Homo sapiens: one gene and its partners. The protein of the gene in region 1 purifies or fractionates together with the protein of each later gene. This does not show direct contact. Each region holds a gene or a part of one and is shown in the gene's direction. Other genes may lie near its edges.

Evidence for each region.
Region 2: the proteins of ANOS1 (region 1) and NMNAT1 purify together in Homo sapiens (affinity purification with mass spectrometry; one large-scale study listed by BioGRID and IntAct). This does not show direct contact.
Region 3: the proteins of ANOS1 (region 1) and ZNF346 purify together in Homo sapiens (affinity purification with mass spectrometry; one large-scale study listed by BioGRID and IntAct). This does not show direct contact.

Annotation. Positions count from the first base shown.
Region 1 is NC_000023.11:8,532,995-8,536,647, reverse strand, and holds part of ANOS1 (anosmin-1 isoform 1 precursor), read left to right. Parts: intron 1-836; coding exon 837-1,057; intron 1,058-2,187; coding exon 2,188-2,329; intron 2,330-3,594; coding exon 3,595-3,653. UniProt on the Homo sapiens protein: Has a dual branch-promoting and guidance activity, which may play an important role in the patterning of mitral and tufted cell collaterals to the olfactory cortex. Chemoattractant for fetal olfactory epithelial cells.
Region 2 is NC_000001.11:9,967,361-9,971,013, forward strand, and holds part of NMNAT1 (nicotinamide/nicotinic acid mononucleotide adenylyltransferase 1), read left to right. Parts: intron 1-20; exon of another isoform or gene 21-98; intron 99-3,653.
Region 3 is NC_000005.10:177,050,110-177,053,762, forward strand, and holds part of ZNF346 (zinc finger protein 346), read left to right. Parts: intron 1-593; coding exon of another isoform or gene 594-641; coding exon 642-827; intron 828-3,653.

The DNA of each region.
Region 1 (3,653 bases):
TTATGATGGCCCAATGTGGAGGGAAGAGATGTAGGAATGAATGTGTTATTTTAAAGCCTAACAGGCTTGGAAAGATGTCCTTTGATAGTAATGTTATCCCTTTGGAAATGAAGGCAAACATTTAGATACCGCTTGTGTTTTGGGAAAGTTTGATATAATTATTTCATTATTTTCCCACCCCTTTGCTGCGTGGGTTATACTCACACACTTTCCATGCCAACCTGGCAAACCTCACATCTGTACCTTCCATCCCATCTCCTTGCCAATGTCCCTGTCTTGCAGTGGGAAAAAGTCTTTTAAATGCCCTGGATTTGGCCAGGCATGGCGGCTCATGCCTGAAATCCCAGTACTTTGAGAGGCTGAGATGAGAGAATCACTTGAGCCCTGGAGTTCCAGACCAACATGGGCAACATAGCAAGATCTCACCTTTTAAAAAAAAAAAAAAAAAAAAAAAAAAAAGCTTCGGATTTAATAACTCTTCTAACAGCTTTAATATTTACCTTCTCACTGCAGTCAATGCTATTCTTTAAGAAATAGTTAAGTCTTGCCAGGGTCTAAACTGCTCTCCTGCCTCCATCTTCAAAAGAGCATTCTAAAAATGATCCCCAAAAGACTGGAAGAAGCATTTAGTACAAAGTTGGAGTGAGGAGATTCCTACTCAACCTATCCCCATATGTCAAAGGGGTGATTGTCTGAACCCATGTTTAAAGAACAAGGTCACATTGCTTCTATTAATATCATCCCATAGACTGGCCGCTGAAAATTCCTACAATGGATCCCTTGGGCACACCTTCTCCAGTCGCCTAATCCTGGTTTTCCTTCTTGCATTGCTGCAGGTCATGTTCTTTCTAAGGTGCTAGCTAAGCCTGAGAACCTTTCTGCTTCATTCATCGTCCAGGATGTGAACATCACCGGTCACTTTTCTTGGAAGATGGCCAAGGCCAATCTCTATCAGCCCATGACTGGGTTTCAAGTGACTTGGGCTGAGGTCACTACGGAAAGCAGACAGAACAGCCTACCCAACAGCATTATTTCACAGTCCCAGATCCTGCCTTCCGTAGGTCCCACCTCTTGTACTATGTCTGTGTCATTGGTATCTACTGCTCCTTTTTACTGACCTTCAGAGGTGGCTACCTCTGTCATTCTGTGTGCTGCACTATTGAGTCTTATTTTTGCATTTTCTTCTTCTGAGTGTATCTTTTGCAAGCATTAACACATCACAAATGTGACTGCATAGCTAAGAAGTAGCATAAGCTGCCATCTAGATAAAGTTTGATGGCTAGAGCCAACTCATGAAAAGACCTTACCCTATCTTGTATATAAGTGATTGAGCCATTTTCTTCTATCTTTGTTAACCTCATGTCTCTCTGGTCCAAGTGAACATGCCCTGTTTGAAGTGTTGAATTGGGGAGGGCAGGAATAGCTAAAAGAAGCTTGTTGTTTGTCCGTCTTCCCCGCAACTTCAAATTTGGCTCGAGGCTGTAATGAGTTGGCCTGTCTTCCAGGCCACTTAATTCCTTGGCTTCAAAAAAAAAAAAAAAAAATCATGTGTGGGATTTTACCCTCTCTGAAAATGCCCTTAGAATAGCCAACTACCGTTACAAAATCCAAAAAGAGGGGCAGAGAGGGAAAGAAACACAACTTAAATCTCAGAAGGAAAAATTCCATGGAATTAGAGAGTAGTTATTCTATAAATGTACTAGGTTTTATTGAGTTTTGAGAAGAATATGTTGGCATAAAAATAAACATTTTCAGTTATGGGCATTGACAGATACTGTGTTTTAAGAAAAACAGTTGGCTCATTCACTGAAATTTGGACTATCAAGAGTTCACATCACAAGATGTGCAGCTGAAGACTTTAAACCATGGGAAAGTTTTACGTTAAGGAATTAAAAAAATAAATAAAATCCCAGGAGTGAGCCCTGAGAACTGGCACCTCAGCATATTTTAACTCTGCCAAGTGTCTTAGGCTGCCAAGAATTGAGTGAGGTGCTAAGAAACCATATGGCAGAGAACCCCCACAAATGAGAAATAGTCTATAAATTAAACTATGCCTTTACAAAGCAACCAAACTTGCCTGTGTATGATATTCTCCAGTGGGGGAAAAACTGTTCTAGGCTCTCTGTGCATTGCATGTTGTCTCTGAAAGGTTGTCGGTGAGCATGCTCTTTTATGTTGTCCCCTTAGGATCATTATGTCCTAACAGTGCCCAATCTGAGACCATCTACTCTTTACCGACTGGAAGTGCAAGTGCTGACCCCAGGAGGGGAGGGGCCGGCCACCATCAAGACGTTCCGGACGCCGGAGCTCCCACCCTCTTCAGCACACAGTGAGTGGGGTGCCAGGGCATTAAGCCATCCTGTCAGGTCTTGTGGACATAGAGAAAAATCTTGCTGGAAAATGAAAACAAATAAATACACTAGTACAGGTTTCTATGAGATAGGGAAATTGTCATCATCTGAAATTCTTTCTCCCTGTTTGTACCGACTTACTAGATTCTATTCCAGGCACCTGTAGTATACATTGCATAGTTGATGCTTAATTGTTCTTTTTCTCCCTCCCTCCCTCTTCCCCGCTTTTCTCCCTTTCTTTGCTCCTTCCTTGTTTCCTTTCTCCATCCTCTCTCCCTCCCTCCTTCATTCTTCCCTCTCTTCTTTTCTCCTTTCCTCTATCCTTCCTTTGTTTTTTTTTTCCTTCCTTGCATTTTCCCCTATGTAATGCATGCTTTTTTCCTTGTCTTTTAAACCATAAATACATATGGGAAAAAAATCTGTAGTCTCATATCTGAAATATTTTTAAATCAAGATTTTCATATATCACAATATAGGAAATAATATTTTGCTAAGGAACTTATGTTCTTGTTACATAGATATTACTGTAATAAATATTATGAATTTTCTTCATGATATGACCCAAGTCCACCTACTTCATTTATTGCTAAATCAAGTAAAATTTAAAAAGAAAATTGTCACCTAGATTTTCAAAACAGCCTCTTGCTGATTTTTAAATTATGTACTTCGTTTACTTTATTTTCTAGCTTAAATTTTTTAAAAAAGTGTCTGATGACTAGTGTGTGGACAAAACATTGAGAATTAGTCATAGTTTTAACTCTGATTTTTTTAAATGATAGATTGGTATGCTTATAATTGATAACTTGGTATGCTTATAATTTGAAGAAAAACAAAAACTATCACAATGGGAGAGCTTGATAGCCTCTAAAATTTTTGTCAGATAAATGCTTTTCTGATATTCCTTCATAGAAATTCCTTTTAACAGAAGTATTTGATAATTTTTAAACTTCTTTGAGCAAATAAAAAAGGATTATGGTTTGATTGGATAAGTGTGAGCTTAAGGAAAGGAGCTTGTCTTCTTTTTCTTGTTATTTTATAGTTTGGGAAGACATCAAAGAGGAAGAGAAAAACAGGAAAAGGAGAGAAAGAGTGTGGTTGTACATTCAGATTCAGAATAGGAAAGACATGGTCATAGGAAGGAACATTTGCCAGGGTCTCGTGCTTTTTCTACAAATAAAGGTAATTCTATCATTTATTTGATACATACAAATGGATGTGACTGACATATTTTGTCACTTTTTAGGATCTCATCTTAAGCATCGTCATCCACATCATTACAAGCCTTCTCCAGAAAGATACTAA
Region 2 (3,653 bases), on another chromosome or scaffold:
TCTCCCACGAATCCTACTGGAGCATATTCTCAAGTAGTTTCATGATAAAGGGTGTATGAGAGATCAACCCTTTATCATGAAACGCTTGAGGATACGCTCCAGAAAGATTAGAAAGCAAAGCGAGAAATAAATAGGGGATCTAACCCAGGAAAGAGATGAAGAAGTTTTCAGAATAATAGCTTCACAAATAGAGATTTTTCATCTGGATAAGAGGAGGAGAGTTCCAGAAAGAAAATCCTCTGGGAAAAAAACAGATTGAATAGAATAGCAATTGTAAATTAAACCATTTGAAATTGATGTTTTGTTGATTAAAAAAAAAATTGCTTGCTGAGCACAGTGGCTCATACCTGTAAGCCCAGCACTTTGGAATTGGCCAAAGTGGACAGGTTCGCTTCGAGATTCTGAGCCCAGGAGTTTGAGACCAGCCTGGGCAATATGGCAAAACCCCATCTCTACAAAAAATACAAAAAAACAATTAGCCAGTGCATGCCTGTAGTCCCAGCTGCTTGGGAGGCTGAGGTCGAAGGATCACTTGAGCCTGGGAGATGGAGGTTGCAGTGAGCTGAGATTGTACCACTGTACTCCAGCCTGGACAACAGAGTGAGATACTGTCTCAAAAATCAAAAAACAAAAGACAATTCTAGTAACATAATTTGCAACATTCATAATAGCTATATTCATAGCATGTTTGCTATTTGCCAAATGTAGTTTTTTTTTTTGTTTTTTTTTGAGATGGAGTCTCGCTCTGTTGCCCAGGCTGGAGTGCAGTGGCACGATCTTGGCTTGCTGCAAGCTCCGCCTCCTGGGTTCACGCCGTTCTCCTGCCTCAGCCTCCCGAGTAGCTGGGACTACAGGTGCCCGCCACCACGCCTGGCTAATTTTTTTGTGTTTTTAGTAGAGATGGGGTTTCACCATGTTAGCCAGGGTGGTCTCGATCTCCTGACCTCGTGATCTGCCCATCTTGGCCTCCCAAAGTGCTGGGATTACAGGCGTGAGCCGCCGCGCCTGGCCTGCCAAATGTAGTTCTATGTCTTGGATCTGTATTGTTTCATTTAATCCTCACAACAATCAGGAGGTAGGTAGTATTATTTTCTCCTTTTTAAGATTGATTAAAAACTGGGACAAGGTGGGCACTGTGGCTCATGCCTGTAATGCCAATACTCTGGGAGGCCGAGGCAGGTGGATCACTTAAGGTCAGGAGATCAAGACCATCCTGGCTAACATGGTGAAACCCCGTCTGTACTAAAAATACAAAAAATAATTAGCCAGGAGTGGTGGCGGGCACCTATAGTCCCAGCTACTCGGGAGGCTGAGGCAGGAGAATGGCATGAACCCAGTAGGCGGAGCTTGCAGTGAGTCGAGATCATGCCACTGCACTCCAGCCTGGGCGACAGGGCGAGACTCTGTCTCAAAAAAAAAAAAAAAAAAATTAGCCAGGTGTGGTGGCACGTGCCTGTAATCCCAGCTACTTGGGAGGCTGAAGCAGGGAGGATTGCTTGAACCTGGAAGGCAGAGGTTGCAGTGAGCTGAGATCGTACCACTGCACCCCAGCCTGGGTGACAGAGCGAGACTCTGTCTCAAAAAAAAAAAAAAAAAGCCAAAGAAAAAACCTGGCACAAAAGGAAGGTTAAGTTAGGGTTAGGTTGCCCAAGGTCATGCCGTTGGAGCTGCAATTTGAAGCCAGGCAGCCTAATATCAGAGCATAGGCTCTTAACTCTTCTGTTATATAGGCGGGAAATTGTAGGATACTTTCTTGTAGAGTCTGACTAATCCAAGCAAAAAGACCTGCGGTACTGACAGGTTACTGAACAGTTATGGCCCCTGTGCACAAGCCCTACCTACCCACTCAGCCTGTCCCATCAGCTCTTTTTGAAGAAACTTTAAAATATATCATGAATATTGGTAGAGAAATAGAGATGATAATCTGTTGGGGAAATGAGTAGAATACCATAAACAGGAGTATTCAGAGGATAGGGCTCTTGGAAATTAAGAGTGTAATGGCAGAAGTGAAAACTAGGCAGATTGGAGGATGAAGTTGAGGCTATCAGGAAATTAGAGCATGAAGGCAGGAGGTGGAAAATACAGAAAAAATGATTAGATGCTTCAGCTCTAAATAATAGACATTTTCAGGCCAGGCACAGTGGTTCATGGGCGGCTGAGGTGGGTGGATCACTTGAGGCCAGGAGTTCGAGACCAGCCTAGCTAACATGGTGAAACCCATCTCTACTAAAAATTCAAAAGTTATCTGGGTGTGGTGGTGCATGCCTGTAGTCCCAGCTACTTGGGAGGCTGAGGCAGGAGAATTGCTTGAACCTGGGAGGTGGAGGTTGCAGTGAGCTGAGATCGTGCCACTGCACTCCAGCCTGGGTGAGAGAGGGAGACTCTGTCTCAAAAAAATAAATAAATAATAGACATTTCAAAAGAACAGATAAAATGGGAGGCAGAAAATCATCAATGAAAGAACTCAAGGACATTTTCTAGAACTGAATGTTACAAGTTTCCAGACTGAAAGGACCTGCTTGCCCTGTGCTCAGCATGATGGATAGAAACAAAGCTGCACTAGAGGACAGCACTGTGAAATTTCAGAACACTGCGGACAAAGAGAAGACCTTACATGCTTCAAGACAGGAAAAAAATGACATTCAAAAGCTCCGGAATTAGAAGTGGCTTTGGATTTCATGCTATTAACATTGGAATCTAGAAGTAATGCCTTTGAAGTTGTGAGAGAAGATGATTTTCAACATAGTCTGGAGATAAACTATATTGGGCAGTTTGGGAGAAGGTAGTCAAAGGGTATGAGGGCTAATCTTTATAGATCATAAAGTCAATGGGCACTGTTATAGTTGGATAAATTAAGAAATGGCATTATAAGCACATAATGTAGAGTTATGGTAGAAACTACCAGAAGAAATAGCTGAAAAAGTTAAAAGTGGTTGGATGGAAGGGATGATGAGTGGAATATGATTGATGGCTGTTGGTTTTCATTAAGGGCCTTTTTTACCCTGTGATGTTCTAGATCTATATATATGAATTAGTTGAATAAGAAATTTTAGGCCAGGCGCAGTGGCTCACGCCTGTAATCCCAGCACTTTGGGAAGCTGAGGCAGGCGGATCACAAGGTCAGGAGATGAAGACCATCTAACATGATGAAACCCCGTCTCTACTAAAAATACAAAAAATTAGGCAGGTGTGGTGGCAGGCACCTGTAATCCCAGCTACTCGGGAGGCTGAGGCAGAAGAATGGTGTGAACCTGGGAGGCGGAGCTTGCAGTGAGCTGAGATCGCGCCAATGCACTCCAGCCTGGGCAACAGAGTGAGACTCCCGTCTCAAAAAAAAAAAAAAGAAATTTTAATAAAAACCTAAAATTGGATGCCTTATGTTACTTCATTAGGGTTATGGAAGGATCAGTGGAATAACTGATATGAAAAAGAGGTTTGTAAATTATATTCTATTATTTAGTGGAAAGTTATGATGTTACTATCATGTTGACTAAAAGGCAAAAATGCTGTATTTGGTAGATGATAATATTGTTGTATTAATTAACTGTGGCCACAATAGTGCAATCACAAAACTTGAGTGACATATGATAATGAACACTAATTTTTTGTTTTTGAGACTAGGGTCAGCTTGTTGGCTTGACGATCTGAGCCAG
Region 3 (3,653 bases), on another chromosome or scaffold:
CAGATGTGAGCAAAACGCATAACTAAATGTTAATGGTCCTCTTTTCTCTCTACTCAGCCTATAATATGCAATGTAGCCTAAAAGGCATCCCTAGTATGGTTACCTTTTCTGAATGACCTTGTATGAGCTCCAGGAACTCAAGCCTCAATTTCTGTATCTGTGCATTTGTTCCCAGCTCTGCAACTGTATTACTTTAAGGATGAGAATAAAACTCCCAAACTTCGTGTCCCACTTGCTGTGAAGTTCTGGGAAGTACTGAGGTATCCCTGCAAGAGTGCAAGTGTGCATCTCTAGTCTATTGTAACTTGGCAGCCTGACAGGAGAAGCTCAGGGCCTCCTAAGAATATGAGAACCACCAGGATTTGTGGGCTTAAAGTAGTTAAAGCCGCTGAATGAAATAGCCAGTCTTTGGGCTCCCTCAAATCTTCCCAGGTTTCCCAATTAGAGAATGCATTCACCTGTGTGACTCACACAGGCAGTGCCACATCTGCAGTAGGATTAACTGGTGTCACAGCCCTTTCTATTCAGCATACTCAAAAGCCTGACACCTTCTGGGTTTTTTCATTGTTTCTGTTTGAACTCTCTCACTGCAGCTCTGTCAAAACGCCTTACAAATCCTTTCCTTGTGGCCTCCACCTTAGCCTTGCACCAGAATAGAGAGATGATAGACCCAGACAAGTTCTGCAGCCTCTGCCATGCAACTTTCAACGACCCTGTCATGGCTCAACAACATTATGTGGGCAAGAAACACAGAAAACAGGAGACCAAGCTCAAACTAATGGCACGCTATGGGCGGCTGGCGGACCCTGCTGTCACTGACTTTCCAGGTGAGGGGGCCTAGCTCACACCCAGAGCTGGACCAGGGTTTGGCCACTGGGGCTACCCGGACCAGCTGACGTTGTGCTTTTCCTCCTTAGGTCTTGTAAGTAGGGTTTGCGAACTCAGATGGCTACAGAAGCCAGATGAGAAATTAAAATGAGAGCCAGGAAGGGGATATGGTCAGCTGAAGAGTGAATGCCATTCCTACTCAGCTGTTACCATATCTTTCAGGTTTTCTTTTCTTTTTTTTTTTTTTTTTTTTTTGAGACAGAGTCTTGCTCTGTCACCCAGGCTGGAGTGCAGTGGCGCGATCTCGGCTTACTGCAAGCTCCACCTCCCAGGTTCATGCCATCCTTCTGCCTCAGCCTCCTGAGTAGCTGGGACTACAGGTGCCTGACACCATGCCCAGCTAATTTTTTTGTATTTTTAGTAGAGACGGGGTTTCACCATGTTAGCCAGGATGGTCTCGATCTCCTGACCTTGTGATCCGCCCACCTCGGCCTCCCAAAGTGCTAGAATTACAGGCGTGAGCCACCGCGCCCAGCCCTCTTTCAGGTTTTCAAAAGACTCTGGAAAGCCAGATTTATATAGAAATCCCTCTGTTTTTGTTTTTGCGTTTGTGTTTTTTGAGATGGAGTCTCCCTCTGTCACCCAGGCTGGAGTGCAGCGGCGCAATCTCAGCTCACTGCAGCCTCCACCTCCTGGGTTCAAGCGATTTTCCTGCCTCAGCCTCCCGAGTAGCTGGGGCTACAGGCACACACCACCACGCCCGGCTAATTTTTGTATTTTTAGTAGAGACAAGGTTTCACCATGTTGGGCAGGATGGTCTCGATTTCCTGACCTCGTGATCCGTCCGCCTCGGCCTCCCAAAGTGCTGAGATTACAGGCGTGAGCCACTGCACCCGGCCCCTCTGATTTTTAAATGTGTAACTAAATTAAAAAATTTTTAAGCCCAGCCAGGCATAGTGGCTTATGCTGTAATCCAAACACTTTGGGATGCCAAGGTAGGAGGATCACTTGAGCCTAAGAGTTCAAGACCAGCCTGGCCAACATGGTGAGATCCCATCTCTACTAAAAATTTTAAATATTAGCTGGGCATGTGGCGCATGTCTGTAGTCCCAGCACCTTGGGAAGGCTGAGGTGGGAGGATAACTTGAGCCCAGGAGGTCAAGGCTAAAGTGAGATATGATTGTGCCACTGTATTCCAACCTGAGTGAGAGCGAGAACATGTATCAAAAAAACAATTTTTTTTTTTTTTTGAGACAGTCTCACTCTGTCTCCCAGGCTGGAGTACAATGACACCATCTCACCTCACTGCAACGTCTGCCTCCTGTGTTCAAGCGATTCTTATGCCTCAGCCTCCTGAGTAGCTGGGATTACAGTTATGTGCCACCCCACATGGCTAATTTCCGGCTAATTTTTTTTGTATTTTTAGTAGAGACAAGAGTTTCACCGTGTTGGCCAGGTTGGTCTCGAACTCCTGACCTCAAGTGATCCACCCGCCATGACCTCCCAAAGTGGTGGGATTAGAGGCATTAGCCACCAAGCCCAGCCAAAAAAAAAAAAAACTATTTTTAAACCCTGTGTAAGTCAGACCTGTCTGCAAGCCAGATTTGGGCCAAGGACCCTTAGCGGATTAGATCAGAATCTCATGTTCTGATAGTTCTTACTTTGTACCTCCACAAAGGTGAACCCCTGAGAGAGAAAAGGTTGCTTCCTATCAGCAGAATTTAGACCCCTACATTAAAGTTTTGCCTCCCCCATTCTTTGGTTGTGGTTATGTTAAGGAGATACTGGTACTAAGAAAAACTACTAAAACTACACGTACACATGGTCCCCAACTTCCTATGGTTCAGCTTTATGATTTTTTTCAACTTTACGATGGTGTGAAAGCAATAGATGTTGAGTAGAAACTGTACTTCTCTTGCACTGCTAGGCAGCAATTGGTAATAAGTTTATCTAGATGTAACCCCATTGTAAGTCAAGGAACATCTGTAGAGTGAGAGAAAGCATGGAAATCTTCTGCTGACTTGCAGGATCCATTCACCACTCATTGGTAAAGGATGAATTCCTTGTTTTTACCTTTTTTTTTTTTAAGAGGGTCTCTTGCTGGATGCAGTGGCTCACGCCTATAATCCCAACACTTTGGGAGGCCAAGGCAGGTGGATCATAAGGTCAAGAGGGCGAGACCATCCTGGCCAATATGGTGAAACCCAGTCTCTACTGAAAATAGAAAAATTAGCTGGACGTGGTGACACACGCCTATAGTCCCAGCTACTTAGGAGGCTGAGGCAGGAGAATTGCTTGAACCCGGGAGGTGGAGGTTGCAGTGATCCAAGATCGCGCCACTGCACTCCAGCCTGGCAAAAGAGCAGCAAGACTTCATCTCAAAAAAAAAAAAAAAAAAAAACAGGGTCTCTGTATGTTGCCTAAGCTGGTCATGAGCTCTTGGGTTCAAGTCATCCTTCTACCTTGGCCGCCCAAAGGGCTGTGATTACAGGCATGAGCCGTTACACCCAGCCTGCTGTTATCAAGTATGCATTTAAGTCTTGCCCAAAGTATTTGTGTATTTTGGTACTTTTAATGCTGTTTTAAAATGAACATTCCTTAAAGTTGACTGGACCATTTCTAATACAATAAGGATAATTTTAAAAGACCTGGAAGAAATTCAGTTTTCATGAATATTATACTGTTAAGAGAGGGAAAAAAATATCGACCTTGATGAGTTTTTCTTACATGTGTTCTTGTTTGCTATGAATTCATTGGGAGAAAATATTTGCTGCCTTTTTACTGTGCATTCCAACTGTATTCTTAAAACATTTCAAAATGTATGT